Regions from separate parts of the Homo sapiens genome. Here all the other regions are linked to region 2. The links come from fine-mapping of genetic effects on gene expression. A gene starts in region 2. Each other region holds a variant in brackets. All regions are shown on one strand. Distances are from middle to middle.

What was found. PIP is the estimated chance that this variant, and not a neighbour inherited with it, causes the effect.
Region 1: its variant is the best candidate, but not a certain one, in a credible set for the expression of FXYD2 in ileum (GTEx, PIP 0.82).
Region 3: its variant is the best candidate, but not a certain one, in a credible set for the expression of FXYD2 in lung (GTEx, PIP 0.57).

What each region holds. Positions count from the first base shown.
Region 1 is chr11:117,798,042-117,806,119 of GRCh38, reverse strand. It overlaps a transcript of DSCAML1 not described here. Among named protein-coding and RNA genes, the nearest start is that of DSCAML1, 4.9 kb to the right of the region's middle. The variant G/T (reference allele first, on the strand shown) is at 4,361.
Region 2 is chr11:117,820,336-117,827,839 of GRCh38, reverse strand. FXYD2 (FXYD domain containing ion transport regulator 2) reads left to right here and starts at 3,096. Exons shown (of 6, transcript NM_001680.5): 1 at 3,096-3,186; 2 at 5,123-5,161; 3 at 5,360-5,434; 4 at 6,945-6,981; 5 at 7,144-7,174; 6 at 7,468-7,504. The coding sequence starts at 3,162. The coding sequence ends at 7,168. It overlaps FXYD6-FXYD2 (FXYD6-FXYD2 readthrough), which reads left to right. Exons shown (of 10, transcript NM_001243598.4): 7 at 5,123-5,161; 8 at 6,945-6,981; 9 at 7,144-7,174; 10 at 7,468-7,504. The coding sequence ends at 6,972. RefSeq lists enhancers at 2,250-2,802, 2,803-3,356, 5,019-5,572, 7,254-7,504.
Region 3 is chr11:117,786,826-117,794,903 of GRCh38, reverse strand. The region is part of intron 1 of DSCAML1 (DS cell adhesion molecule like 1); the gene reads left to right. Among named protein-coding and RNA genes, the nearest start is that of DSCAML1, 6.4 kb to the left of the region's middle. The variant C/G (reference allele first, on the strand shown) is at 3,885.

The DNA of each region.
Region 1 (8,078 bases), 22 kb after region 2:
ACAGTCATCAAAGACCTGCCTTGGGTACTGAGGATGGAGTGGTGAACAAGGTGGGCAAGAGTCTGAAGGCAACAGGGCCTAGGAGGGAGGTAAACACCACTTAGCTGAGCGCAGGCCAGGCGGTCAGGAGCCCTGGACCTAAGCCCTGACTCTGCCATGTGACCTGGGACGCCCTTCACCTGCCAGCCACTGTTTCCTAGGCACTTGCAGGAGATGCTCCCCAGGTCCCTTCACACTCTGACCTGCTGACTCTGAGCATGTAGGCTTCCCTGTGTTGCTCTTTAAACATCTTCTACTCCACTGGAATGCAAGCTTCCTGAGGGCAGGGACTCTGTGCTAGACTTTCCAGGGATCGGGGAACTCCTTGCACAGGGGCTGGGCACAGAGTTGCCAAAAGAATGAGTAAACCAACAAAATGTACTTCCTTTAGGCCAGGTGTGGACCAGAAACAGTGAAAGAACAGAGTTTTTAACCAGGAGAAGTGGGAAATGGATCCCCCAAAACCTCATACTGTAGCACTTGGAGATTGACAATGCCCACCAGCGTGTTAAAGCCTGCAGTAAAAAACAAAAACAAAAACAACTCCCACAAAAACCTATTTACCTTTGATTATTCCACTGTTTTCCAAACCTATTTGACCATAGATCAGTTTTTGCACCTTACCTATTACCTTCTCATGAAACACTTGTGAAATGCTATGTTAGATCTTTTTCTGTTTTCTGCTGGATTTATCAAAAATAAGGTCAAGTTTGGTAAAGATGCTGGGTTTCAATGTCATTGTGGCCTGAAATGGGAACCTTATTGCTGCATTCTTAGCTGAGCTCTGCCACCCTCACTGGGGCTGGGCTAGGACCTTAGATGACATTCTGAGTCACCCATTGTGTAAGTAAGTGCCATTTGACCCAGGCAACACCCCATTTCCCAACTTTCACCAAATGATGAATGGGATCATGTTTTCTCTCAAATAATCCACATCAGGATTACAGGCCAAGGAGGCCAGTTCAGTAGAAGTTCGTGGGATAGTGGTCCAGAGTGATTGGCATGTCAGCCCAGGAAATCCAACAAAACATTGGACAACAGTAAGAGAAGATCAGCTACCTACTGAGGGGGTGATGGCGCTGGACTGGAGCTGCTCAGACCTCATCCGGATTCATGAGTCTATTCTGTTTTAAGAGAGATTTTTTTTTTCTTTTATGAGACAGAGTCTGTCACCCAGTCTGGAGCACAGTGGTACAATCACAGCTCACTAACATCCTCAGCCTCCCAGGCTCAGAAGATCCTCCCACCTCAACCTCCCGAGTAGCTGGGACTACAGGCATGCACCACCGTGCCTGGCTACTTTTAAATGTTTTTGTAGAGATGGGTCTCCATGTGTTGTCCAGGCTGGTCTTGAATTCCTGGGCTCAAGTGACCCTCTCACCTCAGCCTCTCGAAGTGCTGGGATTACAGGCGTGAGCCACCATGCCCGGACGAGATATTGCTAAAGTTGAATATAAGCAAAGAGGGAAACCAGAATAGGGAAAGGTCTAGAAATTATGTCAGAAAAGAAAAAAGATACGTAGCCTGGCAAAAGGAAGGTGTGGGGGCCTGCGGTAGCAGTTCTTGAATATTTGAATAGCTGTCATTTTGTCCAGATTGGGCACATCTTTTGAACTCCAGAAAGCTAAGGCAGATTTGGGCTTGATAAAGAAAAGCATGTGTACATGACTGTGGACAGTGAAATTAGATAAACTTCTGTGTGGGGAGCAAGCCCCTTTTCCCTGGCAGCATTTGAGAGACTGAGTTGACACCTGTTGGGTCGGTGTAGAAAGCCAGTGGGTATGAGATGGGGCCAGGTGAGCTGAGCTCTAAGGCACTGCCCCCTCTCAGATTCTGTAACTGAGGGGCCAACATTCCCCGTGGTCTCCAGGCAATGTCTTTGTTCAGCCTCACTGTCCCAAATTGCAGCCCACTCACCACTGGGGCACCCCAGGAGCCGTGGCTTTGGCCTCCAGCAGGTGGAATTTCTGGGCCGCACATTTCTCCTGCTCAGAGTGGCTGGAGGACTTGCTAGTGTTTTGTAGCAACTCCTGGACTTTGAGGAGGGTCTCGGTCCACAATGCTGGTGGCCAGTCACAGTGACAGGAGGGATGCTGCCCTGCAGAGAGACCGTGGAAGGCGTTACGGCAGCACCAAGTTGTCTCCCATCCTGAGATCCTCCAGCGCATGGACTGGCAAGTCCAGCCTGTGGTGAAATGGGCAGACTTTCTAGGAAGAGAACTTTCATCATCTAAGTCAAGGTCACCACCATGGGCCTGGGCCTTGACTTTCTCTTCTCTGGGGAGGAAAATCTCTCCAAGGGGGCTTCTGTGTGAACAGCACTGTACAAATACATGATTGACATACAGACTTAAGACCTCTGAGGCAAGCGGGGAGCCCTGACCAGAATCCAGAGAACCTGGTCCCCAGCCACAGTGTAACCCAAGGAAAGTTCCTGGGACGGATTCAGGTTTTGCAGGGCTGGAAGCTTAGACCATTGAGGGCTGGAAGCTTAGGCCTCACTAAGGAAAACAATACACAATTATGAATACAAAATTAGATACAAATATGATCATTAATATATTAATAATCAAATGTGATTATTAATTTAGAAAGATAAAAAGAAATTGCAACAAGTTACAAATCTTGAAAAAACTGACAAATGCCATCATGAAATCCAGACAGATAACATAATATTTGTATTAACTGACACACCTCAAAAATGCTTTCTAAATTAAAAAAAATTTTTTTACGTTACTTCTGCTCACAGCTTTACATAAGCTGGCTTTTGGCTCCATGCATTTCAAACCTTGTCTTTCCTATGCTACACACACACCCCTGGTGCAGGCACCTGAGGCCACAGTTATACTGTGATACAACTTCTGGTTCTGCAACTTCATGTCACAAAGCGCAGTGAGCTGGCCCAGTCGGTGATAGGAGTGTTCCTGCAAGCCATTCCCTATCCTGGAAGTACGTGCATGGCCTGTGAACCATATAAATACATTCCACCAATCCCAAGCCAGAGTCAGATCCCCCCAAAATGTTCACCAGACCCACCGAGAAGCCAGAGCAGAAAAGGGTAGCAGCTGTGATTGACAGTAGTTAAACTCTATTATTCTACAGTGTTTTCATATCTGACCATGTGAACACATTACTAGGGCCCTAAAGGAATCTGAAGCTTGAGCTGTGTAAGTGTCATGGTATTAAACATCCCAAATATGCCTCTGGGACTCCTCTGACTTTGTGTCTTCATCTATATAATGATCAAAACAATTCTGGCATATGTATCCAGATCCTTTTAGGTGAGAATCAGAAATGGACGAAAACATAAAGCCTCTGGAACCTAGAGGCGCTGCCTACAAGGTCAAGATGACAACTGTGAAGACCACAGTGATGCGGGCTCAGCAGGAACTGCTGAGACTTCTTTGGTTTTAGGGGTCAGCACTCCTGCGGGGTCTAATGTCCTGCCAAATGCTCACTCTTAGAGACGAGAAACTCCAATACGAGAACTTTCAAGCTTAAGGCTTTGATCCTAGTTAAGGGACATCTCTCTGGAAGGCATGGCACGTGAGGCTGTAATCAGATATCTGCTACCTTATAAGAATGAGCCCATCTGGTCATTAAATCAACACTTACTGAGTGTACCCCTAGAGCCAGGAGGCACCAGGCTAGGGCCTGCAGGTACAAATCGAAAGGGTCGGAGCCCAGTGTCTAGAAGAGGAGACAAGTCAGACACATGCCTAAATAGCCACAATTCTAGACAAAGGGATGAGACCCATGGGCCAAGTAGATGTCTGAGGCAGTGGGAGACCAGAGGAGGCCTGGTCAGGGAAAACTGGGGGTGCCTGACCAGGCCCTGCTGAATGGGAAGCCTTAAACAGGTGAAAAAGGGGGGCACTGGGTACTTGAGAAAGGTGAAGGTTTTCCAGTGTAGAAGACACTTTCATAAAATTTGATAAGCACATTTGTGAGTGACACATGGGCCAGAAGAAATGCCGGAAGACTTGGGAAGCCAGCAAGTTTAGCTCTGCTCATTGCACTTTCTTTTTTTTCCTATCTCTCTTAGTTTCCATACCTTCCACCCCACTGCTCCCCAGAGAGAAATGTGACAATGAGCTTCAGCTCTGTCGAATCCGGACTACATGGAACCTCTCTGGGTTGGCTTCTCAACCGATTTCAGAGTTGTGAGCTGAGAAAGAACAGCAGGAGAGAGGCCACAGTTATTCAGGGGACTCCTGCCTTGCTGGGGGCTTCCGCAGCCCCTGACCAACCATCCTGGTGTCACTGCTGAGACAGCAGCCTGAACAAGGGCAATGGGACCCCAGAGACTGCATCTGTACAG[G/T]CGGAGCCCCAGGGCTTTAGACCCTTTGCTCCAGTGATCTTAGAGCCATAATATTATCATCCAAAATGATGAGAGAGTAAGTGGCAAGCATACCTAGACATCTTCTGAGCCCAGCAGACAGAATTTTGGTTTAAGGAGAACCTGGGTAGTATAATGACACATAATATTTTTTTATATATAGGCATCACAGTCTATGAATTGTACTGATTCATCTCATCTCAAGAAGATGGTATTTTAGATGTATGTGTATATATTTGAAGCCAAAACTGTTTATTTTGTGTAATTTTTTGTGCCTATTAGTTTCTGAATATCTGTGCATAAAAGCTTCTGTTTCTCTGCCTGCACACATTTGTGGGTACACACTATACACCTATGTGGGGTAGGAGGGGGGAATGGGCATATTTGTTTGCATTTACCTTGTGTTTGGTCCTAGGAAGGGATCTTGGTGATCATTCCAGCCCAGCTCTTTCACCTCAATGGTGAAGAAACTGAGGTCCAGAAAGGCAAGGTGACTTGTCACAGGTAACACAGCTGGCTATGGAGACAGAGGTGACACAAGAACCTAGGATTTCTGATTTGTAGATGAGAACTCTTTCTATAATATTAAAATCAATTATAAATTTTGGGGAGGGAAGCAGGGAGATCCTTGTTTTTTCCTCCCCCAACTGATAAGTAAGTACTAAGAAGGTCAATCTTGAATTAGCTATATAATACCAAAAGTTAAGTTTTTCACACAGACCTGGTTCAGTATTGATTCCTTTTATGAAAACCCTGTTTATACTCAAGTTGTCAAAGAATTCCAGAGGGCATATGAAGCCATTGTTAAAATAATTTTATGCCTTTGTTTTTGAAGAAAAGTATCCAAAATATATAAGCTTATTGTTTGAGTTAAACAATAAAAACATCTGCTGTTTCTCAGGATGGCTCTAGTCTTAATATAACATGGCAAAATAATACCCCCTAAATATCCATGATTAACCTGAATTGGAGAGGGCTCAGCTCCCAGTGACTTCATATAGCTGCTTCAACTGGCATTGTTTAAAAAAAACAAAAACAAAAGCACAAAAGCCAAAATACAGACAGATCATCACCCAGCATTCTGATGCAAGAAAATATTAAAACTGATCACTGCTTTTAAATGGGTAGTGTGTCCCTACTAGAAAGGAATCCCACAAATTTGAGGCTTAAAAAAATGGAGCATATGCATAGGTGCCAATGCAGAATTTCTGGATTGGGTTCAAATCACATTGAAGCACAGGTGTGCCTGTCATTAGGTGTTTATGTTTACCTGTACACATGAATGTTTGCCTGGGCAACTGTGTTTGTTCTCACTCTGGCATGAATATATTTGTGTGTGGGTGTGAAGTTTTCCATATAATTTTGGGAACTGTCCCTTCTATCAAAATATAGCCCCTCTAAAATGTCAGCTGGGGAGGGGACTGTCAGGGTTTAAGGTGGGCGTGGGGTAGAACACGCCGCCTGACTCTCTTCCCCGGCGTTTCATTTTTCCCTTGGGATTTCCTGGCATGCTGGCTTGCCCACCCCAATACAACTCCTGTCGAAGAGGAGACTTCTAAATACATCTGAGCCAACCTGTCATTTTCAAAGACATTTCCCTAGATACTAAGGAAGAACAAAATCAATGGGAAACACAAAAAGCATGAGGCCTGACCTGCCTGTTTTTCAGGTCCTTCTTTTGTTAGCCATCTCTCCAGGCTCTTCCGCCTCAGTGTGCACCTTCCGTGTTTCTGCAGCCCCTTTCCTGGATTCCCAGCTCCTTGGCTCTGGCTTTGTCACAGCATGGAAGGCACAATATCGTCCCAGCATTCCCCCAGTGGAGCTGTTCCCTCCTCCCAGTTCCCACAGGTCAAGGTCCTTGTGAGCAAAGCTGTTCCCATTCATGGTAGTTACCTGTGCTCACTATGCGTCAGCCATGGGGCTTGTCTTATTTAATCCTCGCTACGACTTTCCAAGGCAGATGCTGGGGATGTCCCCATTCCACTGGTAAGGAAACTGCAGCTTGGCACACATACATTTCCCAGGCACACAGCTGGCAAGTGGCAGAGCTGGGCTGAGGACTCATCTCCTGCTGTTTCCAAAGCCAGGCTCTTAACCATGACATTAGAAAGCTTCCTTTTGCCAGAGGGGGTCCCCAGGTCTGCTCTCCCCAACTGACCACCCGTTTATTTCCACGTATATGTCTCCTCCCGGGACAGCCAGACTGCAGTCACCGGCACAATGAATGACCTCGCCCTTCGGGTAACACACATGTTGTGGTTCTTTAAAGCCCCCTGTGTATAACTAGCATAAAGCCTCCTACACTCAGGTTGTAGGAGGTACTTGGGGTGGATGCAAAGAAGAGGGTCCACCGCTACTTCCAGCGTGTGAGGCACGGAGCAGCTGTGCCGCTACCCCAGGCCCACTCAGATCCCCTCCCAGCAGACAGCAGCCCCTTTCATCCTGTCTGCCTTAGCGGTTTATTTTAGGCATGACCTGACCAGGTGCTCTGGGTCAATAGGCTTAGTTTTAAATAACTGGATTCCTCTCAATGACCGTTCCCTTTAGAAGGGAGGGGGCATGGTAGAAGAATAAGCCAGCAGGCTGAGGGCGGTGAGAGATGGGAGCTAAGACAGAAGACTGGAAACGTGAGGGCTCTGTCACTCCCTGCGTGACCTCGGGGAAGGCTCATGGCTTCCCCACTCTGGGCCTCAGTTTCCTTATCTGTAAAGCAAAAGATCGGTCTGGGTCATCTCAAACACCCCCTGCAGTCTGTCCCCCCGTCTCTGTTCTATGCCTGTGTTTCCAGATGACAAAACACCTCCTGCAAATTGTTTCAGGGTGGTGATTTTGCATGAAGAGCTGAGCCACCGAGGGATGCTGCAGCTTATAGAGCAAGCTCTGCTCTGGAGTCGGGAGGCCTGGGTTCTAGTCTTGCTTCTGATACAACCTTGGTGGCCTTGAACAAGTTAAGCCCCGATTTTCTCACCCGTTTAAAGGACGAACCTTGAAAACATTATGCTGAGTGAAGTAAGCCAAGCACAAAAGGATACATACTTTATGATCTCACTTATGAGGTACCTAGAATAAGCAACTTCATAGAGACAAAGTAGAATAGTGGTTGCCAGGAGCTGGGGGAGGGGAGGGGAAGGGGGAGTTATTATTTAATGGGTGCAGGATTCTGTTTGGGATGATGAAAAAGTTTTGGAAATGGTAAGTGATGATGGTTGCACATCGTGAATGTATTTAATGCCACAGAATAGTACACTTCAAATGGTTGAAATGGTAAATTTTATGTTATGTACATTTTAACATATTAAAAAACACACTTTTCAAAATTTAGTTAAAATTTCTAGGGATATTTTGGCAAAACCTGGGAGTGAGGAGTCCCAATTCTCCCATGTGAACTTAGGCCGCACATTTCGAGGAAGTAAATTTTCTTCCTCTGGCAAATGCAGCTAGCCAGTGGACCCCTTCTCTCCCTCCAAACTTCGCACTCCACACCTTAGAGTCTGCCCAGGTACAGCCCAATTGTCAGGGCATACTCAAAGCAGCTTCCATGACCCTGCAAAGGGAGCTACAGTCCTGGCTCATAGGCCATTCTCAGGGATACCTGGATCCCTTCTCTGGGTTCTATGTATCCTCTTATTTTGGAATTAAGACGAAAGGAGGGCTTTCCAACCATATTGACCTTTTACAGCAGACCTGGCTCAGCCATGCC
Region 2 (7,504 bases):
GTCACTGGCCTGCTGTAACGTGTGTGCAGAGCATATCTGAGCTGCGAGGGCTGGGAAGGCAGCTGTCCAACTGCCTCATTTACTTGTCTGTCCATCCGTCCCTTAGAGATGCAGGAACTCAGAAGCCAGGCTGCTGGCTTGAAATCTTGGTTCCCCTACCCTCTGGCCATCTGACCTCTGGCAAGTTATTTAACTTATCTGGGCCTCAGTTTCTTCCTCTATGAAATGGGGTGATAATAATGCCTTCTTTACCTTCTAAAACTCATTGTGATGACTAAAGAATTAATTTCTGGCCAGGCATGGTGGCTCACGCCTGTAATTCCAGCACTTTGGGAGGCCAAGGCGGGCGGATTATCTGAGGTCAGGAGTTCGAGACCAGCCTGACCAACATGGTGAAACCCCGTCTCTACTAAAAATACAAAACTAGCCAGGCTTGGTGGCACATGCCTTTAATCCCAGCTACTCAGGAGGCTGAGACAGGAGAGTCACTTGAACCCGGGAGGCGGAGGTTGCAGTGAGTCGAGATCGCACCATTGCACTCCAGCCTGGGTGACAAGAGCGAAACTCCGTCTTAAAAAAAAGAATTAATTTCTGTAAAGTGCTTGAAACGGTGCCTTGCACACAGAGTTTAAAAATGTAGCCATCAACTAGCTTTCCCTATTGCTTCCTATTCATCTATCTATTGATCGATCTATCATCCATATCTATCTATCTATCTATCTATCTATCTATCTATCTATCTATCTATCTATCTCTCTATTTATCTATCTATCCATCCATCTGTTGGTGCCTCCCCATGCACCTCCTCCCCCCCGCAGTGGGAGCCCTTCCATCCACACTGCAGCTTTGTTTGTGACCAGGGTAAATATTACCTGGCACTGTTAATGTTTAATGCCCCCACCTCATCCCCAGCCACCCCACCAAGGAGCAAAGACAGCAGGAAGAGGCAAGTGGAGACAGTCCATTTGGGTGGGGAAATGACTGGGTTGTCAATGGATAGATAGATAGATAGACAGATAGATAGATAGATAGATAGATAGATAGATAGATAGATAGATAGACAGACAGACAGACAGACAGACAGATGAATTTATTTAACTTCCCACTTATTTTTACATCTCTTATTATTCCCGAAAGACTCCATGGAGGCTTACAAATACAGACCAAATGCAATAAGATAACACAATCCTGTATAATAAAGGGAGCACCCTTGTCTTGTGTGGAGATGGCAGTAGCTTTGGTAGCACATCTTGGAGGATCTGGGCTTTCTACCTCCAGTTTGCCATTAACTGTGTGTTTCAGGCAAGTCCCTTCACCTTCCTGCCCTCGTTTTTTCTGGTGTACCCAGTGCCCTGGCCACGTCCAGGGGCTATTGTGGAAAGCAAATGAGCAGCCTCAAGTTTCTTTATCTGTAAAACGCCATTAGTAGGAATTAAGTGATGCAGTGCATTCCAAGAGCCTGGCACGTGGTCCATCTTCACCAAACGCTGGCTCTGCTGTGATGTTTGCACGAATATATATTTCTTGGCTCCAGAAGCAGAAGGGAGCTGAACGGGTATTGCAGCGCCTGATCTGCAGGGCCATGCCATTCTCTCCGTCTCACTCATTCGTGCCCATTTTCATTGGAGGGTGGCTGGCTTTTCCATGTCCAACAGCAAACATTTGCCAAAGGCTAATGCTTGTCATTTCTTCAATCAACACACATATAACAGTAAAAATGATGCCACTCACCGTGTGCCAGGCCCTGGGATATGCTCTTTGCATGCATTATCTCACTTCCCCTCACCACCACCCTAGGAGCTGGGTACTGCGCCCATTTTACAGATGAGGAGACTGAGGCACAGAGAGGTGAAGTCATTGACTGAGACCACACCATTAGCAAGTGAGAGGGCCAGGGTGTGAACTCAAGTGCCAAGCCCTGCCCCTGCTTGGGGAGGATTCATGGATACAGTGGCTCCCTTCAGAAGGGCTCAAGCTCCCCTGCTGTCCGCTGGCCACTGACCTTGGCTGTTTTGTGGCCATTGGGCTTCAGCCTTTTCTGGAGGCCAATTCAATGGACTAGAACTCAACGAGGATTCTACAGTACCTGTGACTACCCGGCACAGGAGTCCTGGGGCGAAGGAGGTCACAGCGGAGTGGGGAGGCTGCCTGCGAGGTGTGGAAAGCATCTGCCTCCTGCAGCAGGAGGCCTGATTGTCAGTCTCCACTTCCCCCACACTGGCTGTGTGACCCTGGGCAAGGCCCCTACCTCTCTGTGCCTTAGACACCTGCCTCATCAGTAAAATGGGAAACATAAAGCTTGAGGAGAAAAAACAGTGAGGAAAGTGCTTGGTAAACCATAAACGCAGGGGGTTTTCCCCACGATGAAAGTCTTGCCCTGTCCTTAAGGATCCTGCATGCTCCATGGTAAACTGGCAAGGACACAATCCGAGAGCCAGGCCAAATGGTGGTAGGAGGAAGTGCCAGGGCGGCAGGGAAGGAGAAATTAGTTGGGGATGACTGAAGCCCTTCTGAATGAGGTGTAACCTGCAGGGTGCACGTTGATGGGTGAATAGGATGACAGATGAAGGGCCCTTCTGGAGGATCTACTGCTGGTCAGCTTTGGCGGTGCTCCAGGGATGTGGTGGGGGAGCAGTGGGCCAGGCTCCTAGGGACCACTGCAGGAAAGCCTCCAGTACCACATAAGGAACACCAGCTGCAGCGGCGGCATCCATGGTGGCTGGTGCGGTGGGCCCTGCCTGGGCTGGGGGCCACTGTGGGCCACTGCCCCCAGAAACTCCCAAGTACAGTGTACACTGAAGAGATTGTGCAACTTCCACTTTCCTGTTCCCACCGCCCCAGCTGTAGCTTCCCCAGCTGGCAGAACAGCACGACTGCTGACCCATCCCAACCCTTCTCTTTGGAAATTTCCTTTGGGAAGGTTTGGAAACTCAGCCAGCTCCTCCCTGCCCCTGCCTCCCCACGCACGTCCTCACCCTGCAGAAGGAGCCCCTCCATCCACACTGCAGCTTTTCTTGTGACCAGGGTAAATATTACCTGGCACTGTTAATGTTTAATGCCCGCACCTCGTCCCCGGCCACCCCGTGGAGGCAGCCAGACACTCTCCAAAAAGCAGAGACAGCAGGAAGAGGGGAGTGGAGGCAGCCCATTCACCTGGGGAAATGACTGGGTTGTCGATGGACGGTGGTGAGTGTGCTGGTGTGCGTGCCCGGGCGTGTGCAATGCTGGGTGGCTCTGATTGGCCTGCCTTTGTGGGGTCAGCTGGACCCTACTCTTCCCTCTCCTGCCACCTCAGCCTTCCAGAGTACCCAGCCCCTCTTCCTGTCGGCCTCCTCTCTAAGAAAATTTGCAACTTAAAGGAGGACCCTGCTTTAACCCCAAAGAAAGATAGCTTGAGTGGCAGAAAGGCAGCAGATAGAAGCTGGAGAGCTGAGCGTTCCTCCTCGGCCTCCTGGCACACACCCGCCCTGAGTTCAATGCATCTTGCTAGACCGTCTGAACTTGGGCGGGAGGCAGACGGCGTCCATCTGGCTGGGGAAGGAGCAGGCCCCTCTGGTCAGCCTTCCTAGGCTGGATTTGGGGTGAGAGCCCGCCAAGTTCAAGTCACACTCTCCAAAGGCTTCCTGTCACAGGAACTGACTCAGGCCTGGAAACCAAGAGGGGCACTTGCTGACAGAGGTGGGTTTTGAGCCAGATGCAGAAAGGGGAGGGTGCTGGGCAGGGAGGGTCTCAGCAAGCGGCTCAGGGCCAGGTGGCCACGGAGGAGGAGGTTTCCTGGGGCGTGTGGGGAAGCCTCAGCTGGCGTCTAGCTGTTGCTCTGACACTTAAATCCCCATATGACCTTAAACAAGGCCTGAACCAAATCTGGGAAGACAGCCCTGACGGCCTTCTGTGTGGGACCTGGGTCCTTCATGGCCTCCCTGAGCACCCAGCACCTCAGGCCCGTCAGGATGGGCACTGACTCTTCCTGGCCTGTCCTTTCCTGGCCCAGGGACTGGCCGCTGGGGACAGCTGGGCTTGACAGACCCTAAGTCTCACTGCTGCTCAGGGGCACAGTTTGGCACAGCCCGGAAAGTGCTAACTTGCGCGTTCCTTCCTCCTCGGGCTCCACTTCCCTCGTGCGAGAAGGGGCTCCGGCAGGGCAGGAAAGAGTAGCGGCCCTTAGCTGTGGCAGAAGCGTCCTGGCCAGGCCACCGTCTGGCTGTCCGGGGCAAGTGTACTCAGTTGCAGGGCACCACTGTGAGACCTGCCTGCTGAGCGGCTCCAAATCCGGGGGAGGCCACCAGAGGCAGGGGCAGGACCTTACCTCTAACGGGCTCCTTCCCTCCCGCCATTGAGAGGTGGCAGATCAAAGGGCTTATGCACCTCCATTCTCAGCCCCCTGCTTCCTGGGTTCAAACACCAGCTCTACCCCTGACTTGCTGTATAACTGTGGGGGAATTTCTTCTCTGCACTTCCACCCTCTTGTGGATTACACCAGAATGACATTGACGCCTCATAAGGTTGCCATAATGGTTAGATGAGTTAGGGTTTGTTAGTTTTTGCCCGGTGCCTGACCAGCACTATATATTAATGTTTCTTAACTAGATCTGCTTCCCCTGAGGATGGTAACGCAGGAAAGGAGGTCTGTCTCAGCTTTCATTAGGACTTTGAACAAGTCTACACATTGGGCTCGGCTTCCTCCTTCTGTCTGATAAACTTTAAGGTTCTGTTTTATTTATTCATGCATTTCCCAAATAGCTGCTAAGCACCTGATAGCCAAATGGTCCTGTGGAGAGAGGCCGCTGGGAGTCTAATGGGAGAGGCTTCTCCTGGCCTTTTCTACCATGGTAGGAATCAAGGAGCAGGAGAGAGCCACCCTTCCGGAGTGGTCAGAGGCCCCCCAGACAGCACGGATCCCCCTCGGACACTCGGTATTTGGTCCCCAGTTGAGCGTGTCTGAAGCCGCCTGGAGCAGAAGCCTGCTGGCAATGGTTTTAGCAACACCCCTGCTCCCAGCCTCCCCTCGCCTGCTTGGACCCTCGAGGGTCCTCTGGGAAGGGAAGGACAGGGAATTCCAGCTGTTCCTGTGGCTGGCTCACCATCGGTGACTCCTCTCATCCCACCTCTGGCTCTCTCCTAGGCGGCAGCCCCAAGGGGGACGTGGACCCGTTCTACTATGGTAAGCCTGGGCCCCTGCGCACCCTTCCTGAGCCCTCAGGACCCCTTCCACCAAGCAGCGGCCTCTCCCAGCCCCAGGTCCATGCTCTGTGCCCCTTATCTCCCCTGGTTACCACGGGCTGCTGCGGGCAGGCTGCGGAGAGAGACAGCTGCTGGGAGAGACCACCCATCCCGCTCCTCTTGCCCTCTCTTTCCGGAGACTATGAGACCGTTCGCAATGGGGGCCTGATCTTCGCTGGACTGGCCTTCATCGTGGGGCTCCTCATCCTCCTCAGTAAGTGGGGTGGCCTCCAGGGAAGGGGTGCTGACCAGGGCACCTCTCTTCTCAAGGCCGCTGAGCAGGCTGGCTTTCGGGAGTTGCCAAGGGAGGGGTGAGCCTCCCCACCACGCCCCCCACTGCAGGATGTGGGAATGGGTGCCCGGTGGGGTGCCAGGCTCGCTGGGAGCACAGTGTGAGGTTCCTGCTTGCTCAAGTGCACCCTCCAGTGGGCCCGGGAGGAGCCGCAGAAGTGAGAGCAAACCCACGGGGTAACTGGGTAACCGGAGGGCCAGACAGGGGGACTAGGCCCCCCGCTGCTAACCATGGTCCCAAACTCATTTGTTAAATAGGGATGATCCCACCTGCCTCACAAGATTAGGGCTAGCATCCAAAGACATGGCAGTCAGGACAGCGCTCTGAGAACGGTCCAGTGCAGACTCGGAGTGTTCTGGGGGAGACAAAGAGAGTTATGTATCCTCAAGCCCCGAGGGGCACACAGCAGGAGCTTAATAACTGCACATTGACTTGTTTTGGTCCAACCCAAAGAAAAATACACAGAAAACACAACCCATGGAAAGAAGATACAGCAAGCACACCTGTGGGCTCTGGACTTCTAATGCACGTGTGCCACTGCCACCCCACCCCAAGGCTCGGGCCACAGTCCTGCGGGTCTCCCCATTTTCCCGTGTTGCCCATGGCAGCTCTCTCTACGTGTGCCACTGCCAGCCCACCCCAAGGCTCGGGCCACAGTCCTGCAGGTCTCCCCATTTTCACATGTTGCCCGTGGCAGCTCCCGGAGGGCAGTGCCGGGTGGCAGCTGATCACATAGGCACAGGAGGCAGGTGGCCTAAGCAAGGGGCTCCACTTTGGAGTTGCTGCCATCCTTCTCCAGGTGTTCATCGGGCAGCTGTGCTGGGGGCACCATGATGGCCCAGTCTCTGCTGCTACTCTCGATATGCCAACAGACCACCGTGGATCTGCTCCAGTAAATATTTGCTGACTGACTGACTGACTTAGGTTCTTAAATGCCTATGGTCCAGCCTTATATAAAGAGAGAGAAGGCTGGGCGTGGTGGCTCATGCCTGTAATGCCGGCATATTAGGAGGCCAAGGCAGGAGGATCTCTTGAGACCAGGAGTTTAAGACCAGCCTGGTCAATACAGTGAGACCCGATCTATACAAAAAAAAATTTTTTTAATTAGCTGGGCATGGTGACATGTACCTATAGTCCCAGCTACTTGGGAGGCTGAGGCAGGAGGATTACTTGAGCCCAGGAGTTTGAGGCTGCAGTGAGCTACGATCCCACCACTGCACTCCAGCCTGGGTGACAGAGTAAGACCCCGTCTCAAAAAATAAAATAAAATAAAATATAAAATAAAATAGAGACAGTCAAACGTGGCCTCCAAGCCTGACCCTGCGATGATACTGGCAGGAGGGAGGTAGGAGAGACTGGAAGAATTTTGAGTCTTCCAGGGTCTCCTTGGAAAATTAGTCCATGGAAACAAATCTCCTTTTCTCTTTTCAAGGCAGAAGATTCCGCTGTGGGGGCAATAAGAAGCGCAGGTGAGCGCTGCCTGGGGTGACCGATGAGGGGGTTGGGGCTGGAGAAGGAGGGGCGGGCTGAGGATTTTGTCTCTGACACAGTGGAGGATCCCCAGCCTCAGAGATCCCTAGACCCACCCCTCCCCCTGCCCTCTCACCTGTTGCTTTTCCTTCCCCCACCAGGCAAATCAATGAAGATGAGCCGTAACAGCAGGTATGCTAGGAGGGCCTGGGGAAGGTGCGGGGAGGGCAGGGCAGGCTTGGGAGCAACAGGGAAGAATTCTGGCTCCTGGACTCGGTAAATAAGAATTTTAGGGTCGTCCACACATCAGCCAGGTGGTCTGTCACCCATCGTGTGTTTAAAATGATGGCCAAGGGCCTGGCGTGGAGTGTGTGCCGCAGGAGATCACAGAGGAGCCCTGGAGAAAAGTGAGATGGACAAGGGGGAAGTAAAACCCCAACCTCTGCTGCCTCCCACCCAACCCCATCCTGCCTTTGTCTTCTCAGCCTCGGCGGTGCCACCCACTGCACTGGGGCCAGCTGG
Region 3 (8,078 bases), 33 kb after region 2:
CCCCTGCGATTCAGAGGCTCCAGCGTCTGTCTGTTGGGCGCCAGGGTGCCTCGCCAGACAGGCTTTTCTTTTCCTTGGTGCCTTAATTGGGTCTTAGGTGCCAGGCTGGTCCCTGGGGCCTGTTCTGCTTGGGGTGGCGTGGTAGGGGGTGGCAGAGGCGGCTTGGGGGAAGATGTGATGCGGAGACAGCAAGAAAGATGGGGTTTGGAGTATTTTCTCTCCCGTTGCCAGTCACCCCCGCGGCACCAAGGAAAATGTAAATGTGAATGTTCGAGCCTGTTACAGAAAACAATATCCTCTTGCAATAATTTGTACGTCCATCTGTGAGGAGCGGGAGGAGGCAGGGAGAGAGAGAAGAAAACAGGATGAGATGGAGCATCCTTTGGATGGAATTAAGCAGTTATTGAATGTGTTTTAAGCTTCTGTTATTTCCATTCCTCTCAAAATACCTTTTTTTTATGATGCCTGAGCTCAGACTGATTCCCCAGAACTAAACTGGGAAGGTGTTTTAATCATCGGTTATCGAGTCTCCAATAACTGCCTTATTATTGCCAAAACAAATCCAGGTTTAGGCAGCCGGATGAACCCCGGCGAGGCGCTCTCCGTTGTTCCATCCAGCGTGCCAGCATCTGTGTTGCCTGCATTTGCATTTTTACTGTGTAAAAGAACAAGCTTCCCCGGCACTAAAATTCCTGTTTTCTAAAAGCCAAAATAATGGATTGCATTGATTTTTTCATTTCCCACCCCAACTTCTCCGATGGGGACTCATGGTTCTTCTCTCTTGGGAAGACCAAATTAAAAGCCTTCGTCAGGGCATTAAGAAAATCTCCAACATTCTGTTCAGTGTCTAATTAAAAAAAGGGGGGGGGGGCAATGGGGAAATGTGTTTTTAAAATCTTGAAATGGCAAACGCAACTTAGGGGAGGCAGGCGAAGGGCCAGTGAATACTGGGGAGGGGCTGAGTGGCAGAGAGACCCCGGTTGCTAGAATAACATGAGGGAGATTGGCAGGGCCATGATGCCCGACAAGCCTTTCCGACGCTTCGTTTTTCTGGGCATCAAAGCCAGCTGCCTTTAATATATTTCTGCAGTAGAATGGGGGAGCTAATTAGAAACAAAAAACAAGTAAGCAGTAGACCCAAAGGCGGCGCTTAAGTTGAACAGATCCCGGGGGACTGGACAGAGAGGCTTAGTTTTCTTAGGATGAGGATCAGAGAGGATGTGAGCAAGCAGACAGGGCTTTGGCCCAGGGAGAGCTTGGTAGGGAAGCAGGCCCCAAACAGGCTGGCTAGGAGCCCCCAGACACAGGGTCAAGGTCTGTCCAGAGCACCCCATGGACTGTTAGCCTATGACAGAGGGATGCAGACCTCAAGCCTTCCTGACCTTCTCTGTGTCTTAGAGAAGACACATCCTTGCCACTTGCCACTTGCTTGGTACCCTGCTCTGGCTGGTGAAGGATGATTTAATTGTAGATGAAGAGAGGGGAGGGCAGATGCTCAGAGAGTTTTTCTGCAGGGATACGAGTTCCAGGCTGCGAGCTTCTTCCCTCCTCCGTGATCTTGGAGGAGTTGTTTTCTGGGGGACCTCTGAAGTAGTCAAGAGAAGATCCCCTAGTTCCTGAAGCACTTTCTCAGCTCCCAGCCCAGTCGATTCTAGCGGGTACCCAGGTGCATGAATAGGGTGAGCTACAGGCAGCAGCGATGGCAGGGTGCCAGGAACCCAAGGGCACACCCCAGATTTGCATATAATCTGCATATGGATTTGCATGCTCACCTAGCCAGGCCAAAAGCTGTGCCCTCTGTGAGTAGCATCTTGACCTCAACCTCAGTAGCAGCCAGTCATTGGCTTCCTCCTTGCATGGAAGGGGGTGGGGAAGGAGCTGGGAGAAGGACTGCTGTTGGTAATGCTTCTGTCTCCTACATTTTGTTGCCTCCATATGTGCCTCCAGTGCTCAGCACTGGCTTCACCATCTGGCAAGGCAGCCCCAGAGCTCCCACCACCCCTATCCAAGGACAGACAGTGGCACTGGGGATATTGGGGTAGGATGGGTAGCAATGGGCCAAGACACCGTAAGGTAGACCAAACTTGGGATGTGGGTTGCTCCTCTCATGGTGCAGGAAGAAGAGGGTGAAGAGAGGGGCAAACTAGCTATAGAAATCCAGGGCCCGCATTAGATTCCTGGTGGGTGCACCCCTAGAATGCAGGGAGCTGGGTGCCTAGGGCTGCCATCAGCAGGTAGTGAGGTAGTTGCTGATGGCATGGGGGTGTGAAGTGAGGCAGAATGCTCTTTCACCCTCCTGGTTTGTCACCACCTAGCCTGGGAGGTGGTCGTGGCTTCAGAGAGATGAAAGATATAGCACCAGCTTCTCATTCCACCTCCCCTAGGGCAGCTTCAGGTATGTGGGTTGGTTATGGCGGGGCAGAGGGAGGACAGGCACTACAGTCACTGAGGGAAGGGCGTGTCAAGAGCCTGGAGTGATGCTTGAGGAGTGAGCACTTCAGGAGAGCTGAGTGGCCCCTCCCAGCGAGCCAGCTGGGATGCTGCAGTGGGAGTGTGGCCTCGGGAATGGTTTTGTCTGCATTTCCAGGGCCCTGAGAGGATACTACTATGGCAGGTGCAGCTCCAAAGCCTTCCCAGATTATTTTTCTGCATATCCACTGATCCAGAAGGGGCCTGGCCCACCAGAGCCCACAGAGGTTTCCAAGAGATGTGGTATGGAGGCCTAAGGGGTGAGGTGGAGCCTCAGGGGATGGACAGAGGTAGAGAGGGGGAGGGCCAGAGGGCAGAGCTTCAACCAGAGCTTTTATTCATTATCCAATTTCATATATTGGAGTAGAATGAAAAATAAGAAAGGTTGCAACCCACTGGTGTGGTAGAAATTTGGAGTCAAGGCAAATCTTTCATTCACATCCTGGCTCTGCACTTACTGGCCATGTGACTTTGGGCCTCTCTGAGCCCCACTTTCTCCAGCTATGAAATGAGATTAAAGAAGATAATGCATATCAAGTAGCCAGAACATAGTTAGTGCTCAATAAACATTAGACCTCTACTTTTTCCTCTGCATTGCCTCTACCTTCCTCTCCCTGCCCCCTCTCCAGAATGCATCATCAGATCCTTCCCTAAGCAGTTGAATTAATCAGCCACATTTTTGGCCAAGCCAGTTGGCTTAGACTTTATAACAATAAGAAAGACAGAGTAGTGGCCAGGACAGGGGACGTCAACTCCTTCCATCCGTCACCTAGCTGGATAGCATGTAGGACTCCACATGGCTGAGGCCATGTGGTCACCTGAGTGTCCCTGGGGTGCCCAGCACACTTCCTTCCCCTGGCCATCAGTGGAAATGAAGAGGGCTGAAGTTGGCTCCAGACTTGGATTTGAGGTGAGGCAAAGGTTGGTCTCATATCTGCCAAAGGAAGGCTGGGGTTGGTTGTTAAATCTCTACCACGGTTGGCCAGAGTAAGAACTATTCTGGAGTTCATGCCATAAAGCCTGCGTAAGCACTCCTCACAAAGCGAGGGAGCCCTCATAACTGTTGCTGGATGTATTTCTGTGTCTCTCCCTGCTGAGATGAACCTCTATTTTTCAGGCAGTTTTGCATATAGAGAACACTCTTGGCAGCCTGTGACCTTGGGACTGCTCTTCCTTCCATGACCTAGTCTGTCACAGGGAAGCAGCATGTAACCCAGAGGTCAAGTGCTGCCTATGGCAGGCCATGGCCTGTGGGATCCTACATGTTGGGGAGGCTGTGGGCTCCACAGCCTGTGTGCCTTGTTAAACAGATGTTTGTCCTGTGCTGCTTTAGAGTGAACAGCATTAGCCTTGGGGACCACCCATGCCACTCCAGCTGCTACTCCCCTCATTCGTTCAGCTGCCCTGCCCCACTC[C/G]CTGTGCCCTGTCTCTACATGATGCTTGCACTAACAGTTTCCAAGGTCACCATCTTCATTAACAACAATTATTCAAATGCTAGTTAGTTGCATATCCATTAAACTGATTCTAAAGAGATGCATGTGTGTTTGCACGTGCATGTGTGTATGTGTGTCTGTGTGTTGGAAAGAACATTATCCATGGACCTAAAAAACAAAGCTCAGCCTGTCTTACCTGGGCAAGTTGCCTAATGGTTCATGTGCCTTTATTTCGTAATCTGTAAAATGGGCAAAATTACCCCCGTCCTGGCTATCCTACAGAGCAGTTGTTACTGTATATGTGCATAAATAAGAATAAGAGGCATAAAAATGTACATCATGTGACAGTGCTTTGTATACAGAATGAGGCAACATATGAACACACACATGTAAAAACCACAGCAAACCCGTTTTAGCCTTATAAATGCTCTGCTGAAATGTGAGGCATAATTACTGTCATTTCATCATACAGGAACGATGAAGGTCTCACAGCTGTTTGTGGCTGTCTCCCCCTCCGTGGGCCCCAACATATGGAGAATTTTCCTAGCTTTGCTTTTCAGCATCATGGGGAACAGCTGATGAGGCACAGCCAGGCTGGCAATAGTCTTCCTGGAGCAAACTTGGCAGATCCCTTGAGGCCCCAGTGGTAGTGGGAGTGGGAGGAAGCCTACCTCTTCTCCCTCCTCCCATTCCCCTCCAAGGTTCTTAGATGCAAGTGTAGTCCATAGTCCTCTGGACCAACTCCCCCAAAGGGACATTCTCCCTGCAGGGAATCCACAGTCTTTTGTGGGAAGAGCAGTAGGCACAGTCCCATCTTATGTGACCTCATTTAAGGTCACAGTATTCACTGGAATCTCTGAAAACTCTGCCGAGTCGAGACTGGTGGACACCCTGCTACTAGGGTGACCCTCCCGCAGTCGTGGGGTATGAGAGAGGATAGGACCCCTGCGTTGGGGGTGGGAGAGGGAGATTCAGGTGATCACCTTGGGTAAAAGTCTTGCAGGGTTGGAAGGCATCTTTAAGGCTGTGGAATCTGTCCCCTAATCAGAGGCTGACTCCCTCTGCAGCTTTCCCACCCAGTGTCTTTTTCTGTCTTCACTAGCACTTCCTGCAACAGGGACTCCTTCCTTGCAAGGCAGCCCATTCCTGGCCACACAGCTCTGACTATTACAGAGCTCATCCTTAGAATGAGTCAAACCCTGTTGTGGTCTTGGACCTTCTACTCACTGGTCCTGATGTCACCGCTTGGACCACATAGAGCAAGGCAAAGCCCTCTTCCACTTGACAGCCCTGCGACTGTGATAGGCAGATGTCCTGCCCATCTGAGGCCCCTGCTCTGGACACGCAGCATCCCTAGTTGCTCTGATACACCCTCGAATGACATCGTTTCGGTGCTTCATGGTGCTCCTGAGTTCCACAATGGCTAGTTTTCTGACAGCAGGGTGGCCAGAACTGAGAGAACACTGGAGACAGCACTGTAGCCCCAGCTGGGATGCTGGTGAGCTGTGTCCCTGGGGTAGATGACTCCACCTCTCTAGGCCTTGTGAATGGAGGAGATTGGAAAAAATAATCTCTTAAGTCCCTCAAGCATTAACAATCTAAATCTAGGATTCTCTGGGGACAACTGTGCTGTCTGAGCTGACTCCCTGGAAAGAAATTTTGGCCATAAGGGACCTTCCTTTGACAGGCCCTGTCTAGAAAGGGCTGGAAGATTAAAGAGTCTGTCCGACAGTCAGCTGTTGCTCATAACTTCTCCTGGAGCTGATGGCACAGGGCCTTGGAGGTTGAAGGATAGCTGCGTCTCCACTGGACCTCGCAGGTTTCTGGTTGCTGGTCACAGAAACCATGTTTGTGCTAAGAATCTTAAAAACAAACAGCAAAACCACCCATGTTTCTGATGGACACAGGGAGGACACTTGAGCTGTGCTTTGCATGGGGATTGGAAATGGGGAGCGTTTTTTGGTCATCTCAATGACTAGGGTGGGGAGCTGCTGGCGTTTAGTTGGGGGAGGGATGGAATGTCTAATGACAGGGAGATTCCCAGGTAATTCTGAATTATCATACCCCAATTGATCTCTTTTGTCAGAAAATCCCCCCACAGTGTGCTCACACCATGGGGATGGTCTGAATCTAGCCTGTCATGTGCCTGCTGAGCCACACATCCTGGCATAAAGATGTGAAATGCAGCTCTGCCACTGCGAACTGTGCAACACCAAGAAATTATTTGACCTAAGAGCCTGTCTTCTTATCTGTAAAATGGAGTCTTGAGTAGTAGCTACATCCAAGGGCTGTTGTAAGAATTACATGTGCAATAATGCAAGAAAAAGGCTTCCCACCATGCCTGGCACAAAACAAATGCTACAAAGAAATGATGGGGCTGGGCATGGTGGCTCATGCCTGTAATCCCAGCAGTTTGGGAGGCCGAGGCAGGCGGATCACTTGAGGTCAGGAGTTCGAGACCAGCTTGGCCAACATGGCGAAACCCCATCTCTACTAAAAATACAAAAATTAGCCAGGCGTGGTGGTGCACGCCTGTAATCCCAGCTACTCAGGAGACTGAGGCAGGAGAATCGCTCAAACCTGGGAGGTGGAGGTTGCAGTGAGCCAAGATGGTGCCACTGCACTCCAGCCTGGGTGACAGAGCCAGACTCCGTCTCAAAACAACAACAACAACAACAAAAACAAAAACAAAACAACAACAACAAAACAAACCAAAAAAACCAAAAGATGGCACTGTGATGGGGAAGGTAGTGGTGGAGCAGGTGTGCCAGATTGGGTGGACATCACAGGCAGAGAGCATGGGACTTGGCCCGCTGCTTCCTCTTGTCCAAGGACCATACCAGCTCAGGCTGCCTGGTACATGCTCTGATGCTGTCTGGGAAACTCAACCCTCTCCTTGCCAGTGTCTGGGCTCAGACAGTTTCCAAGATGCAACATAAAGGGTTTTTAGTGAAGCAGCAAGACACCGTCTGGCTGGTCCTCCTCTGGGTTTTGAATGGACTTGGTGGGTGAGCCGGTGGGAGGATCACCCTACTGGTTGATCCTCTCTAGAACCAATTTTTCCAACTCTGGGATGAGAACAATCAGAGTGAGGGCACATAACACATCTCCCATGAAAACCTTTGTGTGGAAATACAGTGAAGTAATCAACCTTGCAAATCAATCCAAGAAACCTCTCCAGCTCACATCTGCATGAAGAACTCTGCGTAAGGCCTGGGAATTAGCAAAAGCTGTGTGGCTACTGCAATGCTCTGTTGCTATTGATTCTACCACTGTTGTTTTCTTATCTTGATCTCCAAATTAAGTTAATTAATGTGGTGGTAGGGTCTTGTCAGCCAAGCAGATGACAATTGTCTGTCGTTGGGAAAGGAAGTATAGAAGTCCAGGATGGCAAATCTACTTTTCCAAAGGACTGTTACTCTCAGTATAGACAGAGGACACCAGTCTCAGAAATAGAATTTCTGGCCCTATGACAGACTTGGTGAATCTGTTATCTAAGGCTCTGCATTTTTAACAAGCTCTCCAGGTGATTCTTATGCATACTGATGTTTGAGAACCACGGTTTTAGGTTATTATTATTATCATCAGAGGTGAGCAGTAAATATTTGTTGCACAAGGATTCACTTTTCCCACAAATACTTACTGCTTGCCTGCTATAATGATAATGCTTGTAACAACAGCCACAAATACTTAGGTGGTGCCAGGCACTTACATAAAGCAGAAACTGTCCCAAGCTCTTCATATATATTAACTCGTCCAACCATAACAACCCTTGAGGTAGACATTGTCACCACCTTTGTATAGATGGGGAAACTGAGGCACAGAAAGGTGAGGCAGTCTTGCCTGGGGTTACACACACTGCTTGTAAGTGACAGAGTAGGGATTCAAACCCAGGGAGCCTGGTACCAGAGGGTGGGCTTTTCACTACTGTACTGTGTGCCTAGTATGTGCCCAGGAGACAGAGTGGTGACTAGACAGTCACTGCCCTCGGGGAGCTAATGGCCTTGCAAGGGAGAGAATACCTACTGGCCGGTTGGTCCTGACCATTCCTCCTGTCCCCTGCCCCCTGCTCCCCTGAAGACCCATGACCTCTCCTACGAATGGTTGCCATGCCTGGGTGAGGCTGCCCTTGAAGGATCTTGCCTGTCTCTGAGGGGGTGTGGCAGGGGCCCCAGT